Regions from separate parts of the Homo sapiens genome. Here region 1 is linked to region 2. The links come from fine-mapping of genetic effects on plasma protein levels. A gene starts in region 2. The other region holds a variant in brackets. All regions are shown on one strand. Distances are from middle to middle.

The links. PIP is the posterior inclusion probability: the model's chance that the variant is causal. Protein levels are from antibody-based Olink assays in UK Biobank. Linkage for the fine-mapping came from a reference panel and not from the study's own genotypes, which makes the PIPs less certain.
Region 1: its variant is fine-mapped to the plasma level of the SCPEP1 protein (UK Biobank, PIP 0.98).

The regions. Positions count from the first base shown.
Region 1 is chr17:56,892,165-56,900,411 of GRCh38, reverse strand. It overlaps TRIM25 (tripartite motif containing 25), which reads left to right. Exons shown (of 9, transcript NM_005082.5): 5 at 1,232-1,297; 6 at 4,460-4,486; 7 at 4,808-4,891; 8 at 4,971-5,069; 9 at 8,183-8,247. Among named protein-coding and RNA genes, the nearest start is that of MIR3614, 4.9 kb to the right of the region's middle. The variant T/C (reference allele first, on the strand shown) is at 4,112.
Region 2 is chr17:56,968,302-56,980,499 of GRCh38, reverse strand. It overlaps SCPEP1 (serine carboxypeptidase 1), which reads right to left and starts at 2,369. Exons shown (of 13, transcript NM_021626.3): 1 at 2,265-2,369. The coding sequence starts at 2,340. It overlaps LOC105371836 (a long non-coding RNA gene), which reads right to left. Exons shown (of 4, transcript XR_934875.4): 3 at 9,075-9,221; 4 at 4,493-4,751. RefSeq lists a silencer at 2,427-2,486.

The DNA of each region.
Region 1 (8,247 bases), 78 kb after region 2:
AGGGGCTGCGGCTTATTTATTTATTTATTCAGGATCTTGCTCTGTCGCCCAGGCCGGAATGCAATGGCGTGATTATAGTTCACTGTAACCTCAAACTCCTGGGATTAAGTGATCCCTCTGCCTCAGCCTCCCGACTAGCTAGGACTATAGATACACACCATCATGCCCGGCTAATTAAAAAAAAATTTTTTTTTTTTTGAGACGGAGTCTCGCTCTGTCACCCAGGCTGGAGTGCAATGGCCCAATCTCTGCTCACTGCAACCTCTGCCACCCAGGTTCAAGCATTTCTCCTGCCTCAGCCTCCTGAGTAGCTGGGATTACAGGCATGTGCCACCACACCTGGCTAATTTTTGTATTTTTAATAGAGACATGGTTTCACTACTTTGGTCAGGCTAGTCTTGAACTCTCGACCTCAAGTAATCTGCCTGCCTCAGCCTCCCAAAATGCTGGGATTACAGGCGTGAGCCACCGGGCCCAGCCTAAAAAATTTTTTTTGTAGAGCCAGGGTCTCGCTAAGTTGTCCAGACTGATCTTGAGCTCCTGGCTTCAAGTGATGCTCCTGCCTTGGCCTCCCAAATCATTGGGATTACAGGCTTGAGCCACTGTGCCTGGCCTGTCTGATTTTTCTTCAACGCTATTTCCCTAGTGCCTAGCACAGAGCCTGGCCCATAGTAAATCTCTGTTGTGTAGTCCAAGATTGGGCTTGAATCTCAGCTTGGCCTGCCGAGTGTCCTTGCAGAAGGGCTTCTGAAATCGGTGGCGGTGCAGCCCCATTGTGGAAGTGCTGCGTGGGGGCAAAGCTATAGGTGGCTGGTATGTGGGAGGAGGGGAGAGAAAGAATAGTGGGAAAGGAACAAGTGTTGACCCAGCCTCCGCTACATGACCTTGATCTCATTCAGGAGTCACATCAACCATGAGCAAGGTGAAGTCATCCCCATTGTGTGCTCGAAGAAACCAAAGCTCAGAGAAGTCTCAGAGGCCACAGAGCTGGGTGCTGGTGGAAAAAAGACTTGGCCCTTGCTACATTTTAAAAAGTCAGAGAAAAAAGGGAATACACCAAACTGGTTCTTAGATCACCTTGTTTGTAGCTCTTGTAAGCGATGGGATGGGGAAGGTCGGAGGAAATGGCTGTCTGTGTAAACCCTCTGCCTGCCCACCGACCCATGGCAAAGCTGGCTGCTAGGGTCAGTGAGAGGAGCCGCACACACTGAGCCCTTCTTCTCTGACACAGGTGACCCTGGAGAGCATGACCCAGCGTCCACACACAAATCCACACGCCCTGTGAAGAAGGTCTCCAGTAAGTAGCCCCACCCCTGTCTCCATGGCAACAGCATGGCTGTGGCCTCCCCAGGCTCTGGCCAAGTCACTTCCGGCCCATCCCGAGTCACTGTGGGGCCTGGACCTCAGTGGGAAAGAAGTTGGTGGCAGTCCCCACTGCGGGGGGCTGTAGGGCTGTGGCAGAAGCTCCGCTGTCCATCAGCATTGCACGTTTGGGCTGCCTGGAACAGCAAGATGCCTGAGGCTGGCTTGTTTTGAGAAATATTTACTATACCCAAGTCCTTGGGCAGAGCCTTGGGCAAGGAGACTGATGGCGGTCCAGGAAGGGTGGAGGCTAAACCTCCTTGGCATCTCAGCAGTGTTAAGTCTCTGGGTTGTAATGGGCTTCTGCTATTACCATGTTTCTCAACTGTTTTTTTTTTTTTGGTTTCTCACTGTTACCCTCCTCCTGCTCATCCCCAGAACCATTTGAGAAAATTTTTTTCCTAATTACAACCCATGAAATTTTAATACCACCCATCTACTGCATAACTGTTTATGTTTGTGCTTTTACACATAAAAAGAGTAATCTTTTTTACTCCCCCTCCCCCAAGGATCCATTTTTGCCCTCCTAGGGGTACTATCCCCCTCATTGGGCAGGCACCTGCCATTGACATGGGGGTTGAGGAGAAGAGTGGTCCTGTTCTGCAAATGTGGACAATAGTGATATCGAGGCCACAGGATGATTCTGAGTGATGAGGGGACACTGATTGTGAGAGCTCTTTATGAGCCATATACCACTGAGATGTCCATATACCACTGAGATGTCCATATACCACTGAGATGTCCATATACCGCTGACATGTCCATATACCGCTGAGATGTTCATATACTGCTGACATGTCCATATACCGCTGAGATGTCCATATACTGCTGACATGTCCATATACCGCTGACATGTTCATATATCGCTGAGATGTCCATATACCGCTGACATGCCCATATACCGCTGACATGTTCATATACCACTGACATGTCCATATACCACTGAAATGTTAGCTGTCATTGCTTCCCTGAAAAGTTGGTGTGAACCCAGGAGGGCTGGCTGCACACTGCTGGTGTTGGGGGGATGAGAGAGCCAGGGCTTGCTCTTTGTTGTTGTTGCTTGTGCTTAGTGTTCAGGTCACCTGTAGCAGGCAGAGTGTGGTATCGGTCCCCGAATGGAACAGAGTCAGGGCTGGGATGCCTGGTGCAGATGGAGGAGGGAGCCCTTAGCTGGGCCGGAAAACCTCGAAGGGTACTTTGTGTGAAAAGAGGAGTGAAAGAGGAAGTGGAAAGGTACTGTTGACCTGTGTCCTTCCCCAGTCACCTTCCTCTGAAAGCTCCTCCCTTAGTATGAATGAGGTAGGGATGCCGGCCAGCAGGCAGGTGTGTTCCCCAGTGAGGTGAGGTCCTCATGTCACAGCAGAATGACACCCTGGAGAATAAAGTTCGGGAATGAATCAAGGCTCCTCTAGGCTGAAATGGGGAAATAGGGGAGGGGGTATGGAGTAGTCCCAGTGCAGAGAGATGTCTAAGGGTAGGTGATGAGGGAGGTGCCTGTGCCCTAGATTGATGTCACAGCCTGGGCCTCCCAAGATGCTGGTCCACAGGGAGTGGGTGGGAAAGTGGCAGAAGGGGAGGAAATGGGAGAGTGAGCGACTGTGAGTGATGTGACTTCGAAGTAGGAGAAGCGGTAGCAAGGGGGCTTTGTGGTGTGATGGGGGTCTGGGGGAGGGAGAGGGTAATAGGAGAGAGCAGGGCTTATCTGTAATGTCAGGTGTCCTGCAGGTGGGCAGGGATATGATTTCAAAAACGCCCCTTTTTGTTCCAGTGTTGTGGAAGGTGGCAAAGAAGGAAGCTGGGATCTTCTAGCCCACTTGAGTGGACTTTGGACTCACCTGGAGGGCTTGTACATCACAGATTGCTGGGTCTCACCCCCAGCCTTTATGATTCAGTGGCTCTGGCTTGGGGCCCAAGAATTTGCATTTACTATTTTTTAAGAGACAGAGTCTCGCTCTTTTGCCTAGGCTGGAGTGCAGTGGTGCGAACAGAACTCATTGCAGCCTCGAACTCCTGGGCTCAAGTGATCCTCCTACCTTAGCCTCTTGAGGAGTTAGGACTGTAGGCATGTGCCACTAAGCCAGGCTAATTAAAACAATTTTTTTTTTTTTGTAGAGACAGGATATTGATATGTTGTCCAGGCTGATCTTGAACTCCTGGCCTCAAGCAATCCTCCTACCTCAGCCTCCCAAATTGCTGGGATTACAGGAGTAAGCTACAGTGCCTGACCAATAATTTGCATTTCTTAGGGGTTCTCTGGTGATGTCACTGCAGCTGGCTTGGGCACCAGACTTTGAGAACGACTATTTTAGCCAAACTCAGTTCCTGTAGGTAGACACTCCAGATATTTTTAAAAGACTTGGCAAGCATTTTTTTTTTTTTTTGAGACAGGGTCTCATTTTGTTGCTGAGGCTGGAGTGCAGTGGCAAGAACACAGCTCACTGCAGCCTCATCCTCCTGGGCTCAAGCAATTCTTCTGCCTCACCTCCCAAGTAGCTGGGACTACAGGTGTGTGCCACTAGGCCTGGCTAGTTTTTTCTTTTTTTTTTTTTTTGTAATTTTGTAGAGATGGGGTTTCCCCATGTTGCCCATGCTAGTTTCTAACGCTTGAGATCAAGTGGTTCCTGCACCTTGGCCTCCCAAATTGCTGGGATTCCAGGCATGAGCCACCATGCGCCCAGCCCTTGGCAAGCATTTTTTTTTTTCTGATTCCCTATTTGGTTTTTGTGTTTTTTCCTTTATGGAAATATAA[T/C]TTACCTGCAGTAAATCTCTTTTTTCCCTGCAGTAAATCTTAAATGTGCAGTTAGATCTATTTTGACAAATGCATACATGTGTTACCATTGTTCAAATCAAGATAAAGAATTTCCCTTTCTCCAGAAAATTCCTTCATGCTCCTTATTAGTCAGTCCCCGCCCCCACGACCGCTCATGCTGGTTTCTATCACTATAGATTCATTTTGCCTGCTGACTCCTTCTGTTTTTCAAATTAAAACATCCTTTTATTTGTCTGGGTCAAATTCATGCACATGAATGTTATTATTTTGAAAATGTCATTGTGTTGTGCCTTAAAAGAAATTAAATCTGAAAACTTTCTTTTGCAGAAGAGGAAAAGAAATCCAAGAAACCTCGTAAGTTATGCATTTCTGCAACTGTTCGTTTCTTGAGACTGCCCGAGCACAGAACTAAATGCTGGTAGTGAGAGTCGACCTCTCTCATCAGGGTTCTGTGATGGGTTCTATATGATTCCATTCTGTAATGGCAGCAGGCCTGAGGCTGGAGGGGAGGACAAGCATAAGTGAGATGAATAAGGTGACTTTAGCCTTGTCTGTTTTCCCCTGTGTTGTCCTGCTGTTCAGGCGTGTGTTTGTAGAAGTGGCTCTTAATCAGTGTGGAAGGGAGTAGAGGCCATCCCGTTGCTCTGTATCATATTTCCCTTTCCTTACCCCCAGCCCCTGTCCCTGCCTTACCCAGCAAGCTTCCCACGTTTGGAGCCCCGGAACAGTTAGTGGATTTAAAACAAGCTGGCTTGGAGGGTAAGTTATCATGGGCAAGGAGCTTTGGGGTGTCCACTCTGAGTTTGTTCTGCAAATCACTCTCTGTTTCCTCTCCCAGCTGCAGCCAAAGCCACCAGCTCACATCCGAACTCAACATCTCTCAAGGCCAAGGTGCTGGAGACCTTCCTGGCCAAGTCCAGACCTGAGCTCCTGGAGTGTGAGTAGCTTCGGGGCTGGTGCGCGGTTCCACTGGTTCTGTCTCTCCTGCGCCGCTCTGTGCAGCTCTCTGTGAGGCCAGCTGGCCGGCTATATCAGCCACTCCCCTTCACTTGTCCTCTACTTTGTTGCTCCCTTATTTTCTCCCAGTCATCAGTGCCTTTCTTTACTTTTCCTAACTAGCTCAGATTTCACAATCGGTCCTTTGACTCTCCCTCTTGCCGTCTAGTCTGGCCCAATTGAGCTCACCTTTCTCTGTGGGTCGGCGCCTGCATGTCCTCTGCAGAGAAGGCAGGGCGATTGCGGTCACCGGCCTTCACCGGGCGTCCCGTTGCCGGCATGCCTGCCCTGCATCTCCTGTCTCCTCCCCACCACTCTCCAGAGCCACCATTCCCAAGACTTCCCACTGGCCATAGCTCCATCCTTCTCCCTGTCCCGCCCACCTTCTGCTTCACGAAAAAGACAGACACTGTAGAAGGGGCTCCCCCTGCTCTGTTATTGACATCGCATCTGCATCTACTGTGCCCCCTTCCTCGCCTCCTGGCCCCTTTCCCAAGACCCCCTGGCCCTGGGCTCTGGAGTCTGCTCCCCACACGCTCTCTGGAATCTTCTGCTCTCTCTTAGGCCTTTCCATTCCCATCTCTTCACCCTCAGCATCTCTACCTAGGCTTGCCTATCTGTAGCACGTTTACATCTCTCCAAATCACAAAAACAAACCTAGCAAAACTGTCTCAGCTGCAGCTCTGTTTCCTGCCTCCCTTTCACCCGAATGCTTGTTAAAAATACAAATTACTAGCTGGGTGCGGTGGCTCATGCCTGTAATCCCAGCACTTTGGGAGCCCGAGGCAGGTGGATCACCTGAGGTCAGGAGTTCAAGACCAGCCTGGCCAACATGGCAAAACCCCATCTCTACTAAAAATACAAAAAATTAGCCGGGCGTGGTGGCACATGCCTATAATCCCAGCTACTTGGGAGGCTGAGGCACGAGAATCACTTGAACTTGGGAGGTGGAGGTTGCAGTGAGCCGAGATTGTGCCACTGCACTCCAGTCTGGGCAACAGAGCGAGACTCTGTCTTAAAAAACAAACAAACAAACAAAAAACCCCAAAAACCAAATTCCTGGGCCCTGTTCTAGCCCTACAAGATCAGACTCAGGCAAGCACGGAAAGCTGTATGTTTAGCTCATTTCCTCCATGATCCTTTTGAGGACAGTTGGGGAAAAGCAGCTCTGCAGATTTTCTACATTGGTGGCTCTCAACTGTGGCTGCGTGTTGGAATCCTGGGGAGCTTTTTAAAATCCCCGATGCCCAGGCTGTCCCCCAGACTGGTTCATTCAGAATGTTGGTGTTTGGCTGCCCAGGGTTGCAATGTGGGGCCGAGGTGGGAGCCTGAAGTCTAATCCTCGTGCCACTGCATTCTGACCTCTGTCCTGCCCTTGACCCAGGCAGCTCTGAGGTCATCAGGGTACTCCGTGTCACAAAATCCAGGGACGCCTTTCAGCTTTTATTTAGCTTCACCTGTCAGTGGCATTCCTCCTCCTTCTGACACTCTCTCCCCTTGCCGCTTGAGCTGCTATACCCCCCTGGGTTTCCATCCACCCCTCCTTTGCAAGCTCGTCCAACCTGGAAGTGGGTGGAGTTCCGTTGTCAAGGCCAGGCCTAGGGCCCTCCCACTTTCCGTCTTCTTGTTTCTTCTGCACCCACGTGCAACACTCCAGGCAGCACCTGCCAGTGGTACCCACTTCCATGTGGAGGCCAAAGCCAATCACTGAAAAATATAGCCCTTCCTTTATCATAAGCAGCTGCAGCAGGCTTGGTGGGGATCTGTGGGTCCCTTGCTTTTTCAGGGCTGGCCTTCTTGTAGCCCTCCGCTGTCCCTGCCCCCCAAGAGAGGCCCAGACCAGCCCTGGGCTGCAGCTAACTCTTGCCCAAGCTGCTAGCGGCGGTGCTGAGCCACGTCTTTCAGGAGCTGCTGTGCACTCTGTGGCAGCCGCATAAACAGGGAAAGTAAAATTCTATCAACTTAGGGCCTTTTCCACCCCCAGCTTATTCATTTTGCCTTGGGGGAAACTCGGGCTCCAGTGAAAAGTGTCATGCCCTGAGCCACCTAGCAAATGAGTGCCTCGCTTGGCTCCCTGCTGCCCACCAGTTAAAGTCTAGCCTCCTAAGCCCTTCCCTTTCTAGCCCCAACATGTTTCCCTTCTCCTGCTGCATCTGTGTTCCCAGCCACCCAGCTTCCCCGATCCCAGCACATGCGAATCCCCTTGGCACTCCGTGGCTTCACTCTCACTGTTCCCTCTGTCTGGAACAGCTTTTCTCTCTCTGTTCTCCTCTGTCTAGTTCTCATCTTCTGTTACTTGGCTCCAATTCCAGCCTGCCAGTGAAATGTTCCCCAACTGTAGCATCAGTTGCCTTGTCTCTGTGTCCCTACAGTGTGTGCTTACCCTTTTGGCAGAGTGTGAGTCTCATGGTGTTGTTACTGATGGACTTGCCTTGCTTGTTGGAGTGTGAACTCCATGAGGCCCGGCACCTTGTCTCTCTGGTTCATGGTTGTGCATCTTGTGCCAGAATCTGGTGTCAGTCAGGTGCCTGGTAAATGGTTTTGGATGGATGAATGGACAGACATACGGATGACTGATAGATGATAGATGGCTGGCTGGCTGGACAGAATGGATGGATGAATGGATGGATAGATGAGCTGATGAATAATGGATGGGTGGATAGATGGGTGGATGGATAAATGGACAGATGGATAGATAAGTGGATAGATTAATGAATGAATGAATGGATAAATGGAAAGGCAGAAGGATGGATAGATAAGTGGATAGATGGATGAATGGAAGAATGGATAGATAGGTAGATAGATGGGTATATGGATACATGGGTAGATGGATAGATGGATGGATGGATACATGGATGGATTGATGGATACATGGATAGACAGATAGATGGATGAATAGACAGACAGATGGATAGATGAGTGGATGGATGGACCAATGGGTAGATGGGTGCATGGATGGATAAAACTAGTGAATAAATAGTACCACTTTGGCAAAGGTCTAAAAGAGCACTTTGGGCCCCTTGTAATTAATTCCTTGGGGTGATGTTTTCTCAGATTACATTAAAGTCATCCTGGACTACAACACCGCCCACAACAAAGTGGCTCTGTCAGAGTGCTAT
Region 2 (12,198 bases):
GAGAGATTTATATTTTGAGTAAAAAAGTAAAAATCTCAGAATGCAATATACTGGTTTTTATATCGTATTTAATACATGAGTAAGACACCAGGCTTGGTGGCTCACTCCTGTAATCCCAACACTTTGGAAGGCCAAGACAGGCTGATAGCTTGTGCATAGGAGTTCAAAACCAGTCTAAGCAACATAGCAACACCCCATCTCTACAAAAAATGCAAAAATTAGCTGGGCATTGTGGCATATGCCTGTGGTCCCAGCTACTCAGGAGACAGAGGTAGGAGAATCGCTTGAGCCCAGTAGGTTGAGGCTGCAGTGAGCTGTGATCACACCAGTGCACTCCAGCCTAGGTGACAGAGGGAGATCCTATCTCAAAAAAACAAAAAACCAACCAACCAAACAAACAAAAAACATGAGTGAAGAGGCATCACAAATTAGTGGGGCTGAGAATATTCAATATACAGTAATGGAGCAACAATTACCTTTTTTGGAGAAAAAAAGAGAAATTTAGGTCCTCTCAACACTATAAACGAAATAAGTTCCATGAGGATCAAGCAATTAAATTTTAAACTTTAAACATTAAAAAAATACAAAAATATAGTTAAATATATTTCTAATGTCTGGATGAGGAAAGAATCTAAGCAAACCCCAGAGACTGTACAAAAGAAACAATGATGGAGGTGAGAACAGAAACTTGTTATATTTCTATACAACAAAATTTCTGTAAATCAAAAATAAAAAGGCAAACAGCAAGGAAAGAGCTACAACAAATATGAAAAAGGGCAATTTTCCTAACTCATGTAGATGATTTTTTTAAACTGAACGATATATATCTGTGTATGTGTGTTTAATATACGTATCCTATAATCCCCTAACTCCAATTTTCCTTACTTAACTTTTCTAGCATCCACAAAATATGTTTTAGAAAAGAGTAGGCTAAATACATTTTCTTTGTCACTTTTTGCTAACGTAACAATTTCCAAGTTATAGCATCTTTTTTTTTTTCCTCCAAAACCACTCTGGGAAAAAAAAAAGTAGAGGGGCTGTTGTTAAAAGATGATGGGGGGGATCCCCTCGGTGACTGGAGTTTTCTGCCTTCTATTTCCTCCCTTCTCAAATTTCAAGCCCCATTGGTCAGTAAAAGAACACTGGTCCCAACAGCTAAAGAGACAGGAGTAGAGAGGAAGACAATGAGACAACGTCTTGTAAATAAGAAAGAGCCAGGGTGGTGGCCTGTGTCTGCAGTCCGGGCTACTTGGGATGCTGAAGTAGGAAGATCACTTGAGTCAGGCAGTTCCAGACCAGCCTGGGCAACATAGTGAGACCCTGACTCAAAACAAAACAACAATGAAGATTAAGAAAACCAGAAAGTGTCCTGAGGAGCAAAACAGATGACTAAAACATTACAGACTTAGCTATAAGGTTCTATATACAAGTAACACACGATTATATTGTCCTTGACAATAACAGATAAGGCTGCGCTCCCTTGAGAATGACAGATAAGGCGCAGGTACCTTTTGACCTAACCCCAGGCACTTCTCCCTTGCCTGGCAGTGACTACTGGTAAAATTGGCAGAGCTACTTATTTTACAAAATCTCCCAGACACTCGCCTAAGGGCCAGATGATCCCCATTTTAGAAAAGGAAAACAAAACTGTTCAACAACTTGCCTAAGGTCACAAGGCAAGCTTGTGGCCAGTTCCAATTCTCAGTGCTTGCTTCAGACTAGGAGAGGTTTTGCTGAAAATCAATTTGCAAGTCATCCTATTAAACACAAATCTGTTTTTTGCCAAAAAAGATCGCTGTGGGGGAAGATGTTATCTTGTTTGTTTTGATCAAGAAAAGAAAGGGCCTTATCTCAATGAAATGTCCCATTCGTGGTAGGATGTAAGGGTACTTTTGACCGCAGATTTCAGCTTAAAATAAAACGACCTTATATCCTCATTTAGCAGCCAATCATGGCCTTTGAATCGGGGAAACCTCATTGACCAGCAGTTTCCCCAAATCATACATTTCTGCACACAGCTTCTATCTAGGCGTAGGAGAGAACGGAAGCACTCAGACCACCCAGAGCCAGAAAAGGACAAAAAAAGCACTTTGAATTTTTTAAGGAAAAAAAAAAAAAAGAGTGAGATTCAAAAGCAATATAATTACACAAGGTAAGAACCGGGGAAAAGAGACATGTTTTCAAAAGCACAAACCCAGTAACAAACTCTCACGCCTGGAGAAAAAAGAGGCATGGCAGCTGGTGCGCCTCTTGCTTGAACCTACCTGCGTTCAGGCCCAGCAGCAGCGGCAGCAGCAGCAACCACCGCGGGACGGGAGAGCGCCGCAGTGCCAGCTCCATGACAAGTACCGCACGGCAGCATCAGCAACAGGCTGGACCCGGCGCCCCATCACGTGACGGAGGCGGACGGGGCGGGTCGGGGGCGGGGCCTGCGGGTCGGGGGCGGGGCCTGAATGGGCATGGGGCGGGGCCTGGGCGGACCCGGCAGCTTGCTGAGACCCGCACGCCCTCTGCCCGGCAAGCCCACCAGGACCCCTGCAAATGCGCAGGGGCCGTTCTGTCCGCCTGGCCAGGTTCTCTGTCATTTTAGGGAGAGTATTTCGGAAAGGAGACATTTGATGCAGATGTTGGATTTAGGTTGTGTGACCGGATCGAAATACTAAAGGGAATAACCACCGCCCTTTCTACCCCTCCCATCTCTTCCTTCCCTCAGCAAAAGAACCGACGTTTTCCAACACTGCTACATCTGCGAAGTCAGATTAAGCCAGCTGGTCGTTGGCAAACAGCGGGGTTTCATTTTCAGATATGTATTTTTTAAATTATTTTTCTTTTAAAGTTATGTATGTTATAAACGTTTTGGAAATATGAACAAAAAAGTTATACATAACTATTGTTGGCATTTTTTCCCATAGTCTTTTACGTCATTTTAAAAAACACTAATAAAGATTTTTATTTTTTTTTTCTTTTTTGATAATTTGTCATTAGTATTACTCTGTGTTACGTTATCTTCACAGCAGTCATTTTAAAGAGAGAATCGAGGGTCTGGGGACGGGAAAGGAAGAAAAAGTGGATGACAGAGCTGTTTTCCTCTGTGTGTGTGTGTGTGTGTGTGTGTGTGTCTGTCTGTCTGTCTGAAGGTCATTTTTACGTTAGAGGGTACTGAATAACTCACCTCACAGCTAGGAGACAAGCTACAGCAGGGGCTGTAGGAGAGGCTACTTCTAAATACTGCTTCAAAAGTACATGTAACAAAAAGCAAAAAACAAATCAAAGTACATGTGGCCACTTCTCCTCTTTCCCTGCTCCTTTCTCCCTCCCCTCGCCCTTGACCCCCATAAATGGAAGTGCTTTTTACTCTGCAGCCATTGTCTGGACAGAGCCTTGACCCCGCCCTGCCTGTGAGGTGCCCCTGCACTGAAAGCTGCGGCAGAGAAAAATATGCCGCCGGGTTCTGTCATGCTTTAAGCATGGGATGGTCCCGAATGCATAAAATCCATAATGCCTGGGCAACATATTGAGACCCCCTCTCTACAAAAAATAACAAAAATTAACTGATGTGGTGACACGCGCCTGCTGTCCAAGCTACTCAGAAGGCTGAGGTGGGAGGATCACTTGAGCCCAGGAGCTCCAGGCTGCAGTGAGCAGGTGTTCCATGCCATATGGGAGATACATAAAAGTACATGCTTAGTTAAAAATAAATAACTATCTAGCAAACTTTTCCTGTCTGAAGCTTCCAAGTTGGTCTGTATCACTAGGGCTTGAAATACACTTACCCTTCCACTGCAGTCAGAATTTTAGGGTTTCAATTTTTTTGCCACAAAAATAACACTACAGCCCAGGGCGCAAGGTGGCTCACACCTGTAATCCCAGCACTTTGGGAGGCCGAGGTGGGCAGATTACTTGAGGTCGGGGGTTTGAGACCAGCCTGGCCAACATAGTGAAACCCCATTTCTACAAAAATACAAAAATTAGCTGGGTGTGGTGGCACTTGCTTGTGGTCTTAACTACTCGGGAGGCTAAGGCATGAGAATCGCTTGAACCCAGGAGGTGGAGGTTGCAGTGAGCCAAGATGGTGCCACTGCACTCCAGCCTGGGTGACAGAGTAAGACCCCATCTCACACACGCACAAAAAAATTGTGCATTTTATAATACGCTAATATGACTTCAAAAGGAAAAAATATAAATAAAATGTCACCTCTAGTTAATGATATTCATATTAAAGTGTTTAGGGGAAGGTGTACCAATGTATACAATTTTCTTTGAAATGTATCCAGATGCTGGCACAGTGACCTATGCCTGTAATCCAGCTCTTTGGGAGACCAAGGTGGGATGATTGATTGAGCCTAGAAGTTTGAGACCAGCCTGGACAATATAGTGAGACCATGTCTCTTAAAAAAAAAAAAAGTATCCAGAATATAAGATGGATTGATGGATAGGATGGAAAGAAGGTTGGATACATGGATAAATACATGATATCAAGTATTACAGTAACATTTTCTTTTTTCATTACAGTTTATAATCACAGGAACAAAATAAACAAAAACCACATGTAGAAACCAGATTAAAGCTTGTTATCCTTACAGGCAGTGGCGAAATTCCAATCTTCAGGGTTGGAGTGGTCTTTGTTTAAGAAAAATACCTCCTTGGTTCATTGAAGTTAGGAGTTGGGAGCTGATGGCATAGTAGCTGCAGCCAAGGCAACAAAAGATAATTGCCAAACTGTGCGGCCCAGGAGAAATTTTGTTTTGCTCCTAGGAGAGGAAAGAAGAGAGAAAGATGAAAAGAAGTGAAGGCTACATATAGAGAAAGATTAGCCAAAGAGAGTTGAGGCTGGAAGAAGAGCCAGTAGAAATTTCTCCGATGAGGAGTGGCTATGTAATCCCCCAATGGGTTCTTTTTGCCTGCTGCCCAGATAGAGCCAGCCAATTTATGAAGGCAGGGGAATTGCAATGGGGAAACAGTTTAATTCATGCAGAGCTGGCTGAAAGGAAGACTGGAGTTTTATAATTACTCAAATCAGTCTCTGAGGAGTAGTTTCAAAGACAGTTTAGGGGTAGGAGCAGAGGTGGCTAGGCAATGGATGCTTGCTGCTGATTGGTTGGGTTGGAGATGAAATCACAGGGAGTTGAAGCTGTCTTCTTGCGCGGATTTGCTTCCAGGTGGGGCCGCAGGAGCAGTTGGTAGGTCCAGGTGGAGCCAGGTGTCAGACATGCAAAAAAACCTGAAAAGATATCTCAAAAGGCTAATCTTAGGTTCTACAATAGTGATGGTGTCTGCAGGAGTAATTGGAGAAGTTGCATATTTTGTGACCTCAGGAATAATGGCTGGCAATCCTTAGCAGAATTCAGCCTCCTCTATTTTCTTAGCCTGGTGGTCATTTAGCGTAAAGTTTGGGGAAGGGCCATTATCATTTAACCTATAACCTAAATGCCTCCCAAAGTTAGCTTGGCCCAGAAGTCCAGGAATAATTAAAGGTAGCTTGAAGGCTAAAGGCAAAGGCAAGATGCCGGTTGGTGAAATCAGATCTCTCCCACTGACAAAATGTTCTCACTGACACAGTTTATGCAAAGGCTGTCAGCTACAGAACATTTTTTAAAAGTTATGCTTGTGGTTCAATTTGAAGTGGATTGCATTTCTACAATGTAAACCTGTCCTCTTGGGGCAGCTAAAAACTATAATAGGACTGGGCCAGGCGCGGTGGCTCGCGCCTATAATCCCAGCACTTTGGGAGGCCAAGGAGGGTGGATTGCCTCAGCTCAGGAGTTCCAGACCAGCCTGGGCAACATGGTGAAACTAAATTAGCCGGGTGTGGCGGCTTGTGCCTGTATTCCCAGCTACTCGGGAGGCTGAGGCAGGAGAATTGCTTAAACCCAGGAGGCAGAGGTTGCAGTGAGCCGAGATCGTGCCACTGCACTCCAGCCTGGGTGACAGAGTGAGACTCTGTCTCAAAAAAAAAAAAAAAATTATATATATATAAAATACGGCTATAAAGGAGGCAATAGGACTGGAAAAAAGATACTGGGTACTGAACCTCAAAACTGTTTTTAAAATTATATGTTTATTCTGAGAAGGGTTTGGGAGGGAGGCTAATGGAAATTGGTTGGGAGTTCCTAAAGGCCCATCCATCGAATTCTTGGTGCAGATGCTTGTGGTAAACCTTGGCATTACGTGACTGTCTTCTCATGTGTCTTCACATCATCTTCCCTTTGAGCATATCAGTCTCTGTGCACTTGTGTCAGGCAACCTAACCAGAGTGACTCCATCTTGAATAAAGGCCAGAAAAAGCCAAATCTGCTGGGTTATATTCCCAGGGGGTTGGGCACTCTTGGTTACAAGATGTTTATGGTTGAGGGAACTAGTTAATAATGCTAACTAACAGCCCTTTCCCAAAACAAACCCCCTTCTTGCCTGGAGACTAGACTGCCTTTGCAGGACTAACAAATTAGCCACAAGATTAGAAATTATGGTTTAGGAGTAATGCGGCTGGAGGCTGCAAGATTCTGAGCCTTCCCAAATTGCTCCTGGGGATAACATCACTATAGTTAAACCTAAGATCAGTGCTTGAGATATTCAGCAGACCCTGCGCTGGATGGATCAGCTGGCATCACCCAGATCGATAAACTGGCTCATCTGTTCTGGTGGCCCCGACCCAGGAATTGACTCAGCACAAGAGGACAGCTTAGATTCCCTATGAGTTCATCTTCAACCTGACCAATCAGTGCTCCCGACTCACTGGCACTCCACCAACCAAATTATCCTTAAAAACTCTGGTCCTTGAATGCACAGGGAGACTGATTTGAGTAATAATAAAACTCCTGACTCCTGCGCAGCCAGCTCTGCATGAGTTACTCTTTTTGTTTTGCAATTCCCCTGTCTTGATAAACCGGTTCTGTCTAGGCAGTGGGCAAGGTGAACCCGTTGGGCAGTTACAGCAGGGGCCACCATGTTCAGCCCCAAACTTCTTTTCTTTTAATTTCCATCCATAAAACTCTACTTGATGTAGGTGCAGACATTCTTAATAAAATATTAGCAAATAGAATTCAGCATTTCATAAAAAGAATTAATTCACCATAACCAAATAGAATTTATTGTAAGGAAACATAGATGGTTCATTATTTGAAAAACAATCAAAATGATCAACCACATTAAAAGGAAAAAGAAGAAAAATCATATAATCATATAAATCAGTGCAGAAAAAATACCTGACAAAATTTAACATCACAAGTTTAACACACAGTTTTTAAATTTATTATTTAAAAAATTCAGAAAATGGGAATTGAGGGGACCTTCCTCAACTTGATAAAGAGCATTTACAGGCAAGCTACTGTGGCTCACGCTGGTAATTCTAGTGTTCCTGGACAAAACTGAGGGTTGGGCTGCTATTTCTTGTGCCCCAATAATGAGATGCAGATGAATTGGGGAGAGAGTTTTTATTTCTGTAACCAGTTACAGGGGGAAGGCCTGGAAGTTATTGCCAGACCAACTCCAAATTACAACATTTTCCAGAGCTTATATACCTTTTAAGCTATATGTCTACGTGTAAGTGTGCATTCATCTAAAGACATAAGTGATTCACTACTTTTAATCTATAATTAAGGTCTGAGTCCTGAGGATCTTCCTCCGGAGCATCAGTAAATTTACTTAATCTAAATGGGTCCAGGTGCTGGGGTGGTTACCCTTATCTTGTCTCCTGCTAAATCATGGAGGTTTAGGGAGTTCCTTCAGACCTGCAATAAACTTGTATGTGGAGGCCTGGAAAGCTTCTTCAGACTCATGATAAAACTTGTTTAATCCTAAATGGGTCCTGTTAAGAATTCCTTCATTATTTTGTCATGCTTTAAGGCCCAGGAAAGGCCTACGCAAAACTCTTGGTGGGCTTTTGTTCCATCCCAGCCTTTGTATAAGGGCCACTGGCTTTTAATATTTAACTTAACCACTCAGTCAATACTGAAACAGTTGTTACAGAAGCCTGCTTTAGTGAGATCCGCCTGCCACAATCTCCACTGTCAATTTGCACATGATATCTATCATGCTTGTATATTTATTTATCACGAGGATTGTAGGGAGATGGGACATCATAACCTTTCTGGCTACTTCCTGCTGAGAGAGGGTCGTCGTTATGGGGCACCAAACACAGCACTGGAGTGGAAGAGGTCGATTTGTTCTTGGTAGCACTCTCTGCTTCAGGGCTTAGAGGCAGCACCTGTTGAAACATACTAGTATGCAACAGCAACACATGTAAATAGTTTGCAACAGCGTAATAGTATGCAACAGCAACATATAAATAGGTTGCTGCTGTTTTCTTCTGAAATTTAAGTTGTTTAGTTCACAGGGCTTTAAGTAAGCACAGCTTAAGTTTCAGTGATTTCCAATTGAAAGAATGGGGAAAAAGGAAACTAAAGAGGAAAAAATTGAAAACATTATTTTGGAGACCTGTAGCCAGAAAAATTAGAACTTCATCCAAACTGTAGAAAGTAATAAAAACTGAAAAACATCAGGCAAGACTAGAATTTAACAATAGGTGTACTATAGTTTTTGAAACATAACTTTTCTGTCTCCAGTTTCCCATTTTTACTAGAGACAAATCATGATAGGACCAATTTGCTTTATTATACTTGGCCAGATTATTTGTTTGTTTGTTTTGTTTGAGACAGAGTCTCAGTCTGTCACTATGCTGTAGTGCGGTGGCACAATCTTGGCTCACTGCAACCTCCACCTCCCAGGTTCAAGCAATTCTTGTGCCTCAGCCTCCCGAGTAGCTGGGATTACAGGCACGTACTACCACACCCAGCTAATTTTTGTATTTTTAGTATAGAAGGGGTTTCACCATGTTGGGCAGGATGGTCTTGATCTCCTGACCTCGTGATCTGCCCACCTCGGCCTCCCGAAGTGCTGAGATTACTGGCATGAGCCACTATGCCCAGCTGGCCAGATTATTTGCATAAACTGCAGCAAGAAAAATTATTTTTCACATAGACCTTTTAAACTGGCTTTGATGGAACTTTGTTCCACAGCAGGAATCTCAGATAAGACTTTAAAGCCAAGCCCAGTCATGGATTTGTACCATCAAATACCTATGTGTTGGGTGAATTTCTCTCCTCTTGAGGTTCCAAGACAACTTGGGGTTCCGTTGGCTCCATAAGTCAAGTTTGATTTCTTAAAGGAAAGCACACCATTCCAGTCAAAGCCTTGGTAAAATGATCAGTTTTTTCAATTGTGACCTGTTACAAAAGAAATCAGATTTTTATTCCACTTATCCAAATAACTATATTGCCATAGATTAAGAATACTTACAAATAGTTTTCAAATTCTGGAGAAAATCAGCTAGAGAGAAACAAATATGCTCAAATTTTGTTCATGGGAGTATACTAAATTGTTAAAAGCTGTCAATAGTTCAAAAGAAAAGTTTCCTTGACTCTGAAAAACAAAACAAAGAATTAGCAATATTTTAAGCAAAAAGTCAAAAGATCACTTCAGTCTCCTATTAGTTCAGTTAATGCAGTTAATTCCTGTCCTGCTTGATATTAATGAGCAGTTTAGCTCTTCAAGAGTCCTGAGGCCTGGCACGGTGGCTCACACCTGTAATCCCAGCACTTTGGGAGGCTGAGGTGGGCGGATTGCCTGAGGTCAGGAGTTTGAGACCAGCCTGGCTACCATGGTGAAATCCCATCTCAACTAAAAATACAAAAAAATCACCAGGCATGGTGGCACATGCCCGTAGTCCTAGCTGCTCGGGAGGCTGATGCAGGAGAATTTCTTGAACCTGGAGGTGGAGGTTGCAGTGAGCTGAGATCACACCACTGTACTCCAGCCTGGGCGACAGAGCAAGACTCTTGTCTCAAGAGAAAAAAAAAAAAAGTCCTGAACATTTTTCCTCAGTTCTGATGTCACAATCTCCAAAGTTATCAGAAACCTGCATTCAAGAGCACCTGTTAGAGCTTTATAGCTGATTATAAAACCACCTTCTAAAGAGGACCAAAAGAGGAGAACAATTGTTTATGGATGACAAAAAGTTTTAGGGTAGCCATAGTTAAAGATACAATTGACAAGGAAATCTGTTACCTCTGTGGTACACAATAACTTAACATAACTATTATAATTATTATTGATAATGTACACTAAGATATATTAGAAATATAGGAGTCTCCCATAACTTTGGAACACATACCAATAACATATTCATACAAATATAGCCCAAAGAAAGCCAAACACCATTTCATATTTGACAATTCTTCCTGCATAATTCTTATACCAAATAAGCCAATTACACCTTTACATTAGTGTACTATTAATGTTAAACCCAATTCTTAGTAAAACCTTATAGACATATTTACCCAATTTTAATGTTTGACCATAAGGTAATATTTTTATAGACCTTTTATAACCCTTTACTAAAAATACAAAAGATTAGCCAGGCATGGTGGCAGGCACCTGTAGTCCCAGCTACTTGGGAGGCTGAGGCAGGAGAATGGCGTGAACTCAGGAGGTGGAGCTTGCAGTGAGCCAAGATCGCACCACTGATCTCCAGCCTGGGCAACAGAGTGAGACTACGTCTCAAAAAAAAAAAAAAAAAAAGCCTTTACAATTTTTGTTAAAGAGCAGGTTAGTGCTCTAAGAGAAACCCAGTGTGCTTTTATTTTAATGCTTAATTGAGAAAAACACTGGATGATACACCTTTAACTTCAGCCAATATGTTTACACAAAGAATTTCCTTTACAATCAACCTTCCACAACTTGCTTAAACCTTCGTCTTTATTTTGTTCAACTTAAAACAATCCTTTAACCTTTAAATTTAGGCAAAAATCCACATTCTCATGCCTCGTTATAATCTTTTTACCAAAAGTATATTTTACTTTCCTTACACTGCTTGCATGTGAACTGTTTCTTTAACAGTCTTAAATACATGTTACACTCTTAACTCTTGGCAAACTTTACTTTTGTGAAAACCTTGCTAAGTTTGGGATTTTAATTATCTACTAAGTGTGGAGCCTAGAACCTAGACAGAAGTGCAGGTAAGTCTGACTTATTCCAGCATCTAACTCCATGTGTCCTAGGCCGTACCTAGCTGTAAAGCAGGCAAGTTTTACAGCTAAGAGTCATAGAGGCAATTTTTTAAATAAAGTATTTAGGAGGTCTAATCACCTTTAAATTGTACAACATTTCTTGTGTAAATTCCCTTTCATAAATTCTTTCTTGACTTACACAGGCAATCTCTGACATGCCTCAACTTTCTGACTTGTCCTAAATAGCCCTTTCTTTAAACAACCAGTTATTTTACTTTATGGCAACAATTTACCATATGAGATCTTTTCTTACATAAATTCTCTTTTCTTTAATACCTTGTTTTATATATAACCTTTAAATAAGTTTTGAATTAGACAAAAATTAGTTACCCTTTACAAAGGACACAATTTTTAGAATGTTTTCCTACCATATATATATATATATATATATATATATATATATATATATTTTTTTTTTTTTTTTTTTTTTTTTTTTTTTTTTGAGACAGAGTCTCACTCTGTTGCCCAGACTGGAGTGCAGTGGCGTGATCTCCACTCACTACAAGCTCTGCCTCCCGGGTTCACATCATTCTCCTGCCTAAGCCTTCCGAGTAGCTCCTACAATATATTTTTACTGGAAAATAACCAAATAATAAAATCTCTGTTGTTTAATATAACTTTAGATTCTAAATTATGACAAGTTTGTTTATGAGTATTTATCCCATTACATTTATCTAATTATTTATTTTAATCATTTACCTAGATTATTCATGAAAACTGTGATAGTCTTCATTTAAAGTTATGAAACTGCCATTGCAAAATTATAACTGAGCACCAACATGGCACATGTATACATATGTAACTAACCTGCACGTTGTGCACATGTACCCTAAAACTTAAAGTATAATAAAAAAATTATAACTGAGACAGTGAAAACGATCTGACCTAACTGACTCCATCTTGCTTCTAACCTCCAAGCTATTCTTGTTCATTAACTTAGAGTTTAGCTTTGAAACAAAGATGATAACAGTCCTTTTGCAGAACAAACTTCCTTCATGTCTATGGACTAGACTGCCTAACACAAGATTAGAAGTTTGGGTATTTAACTAAATAATTCAAGATGTAGCTTCTTCATTAAACCAATATTAATGTTTCATTTATTAAAAATTACACAAGCAAAGATCATTCTGTATTG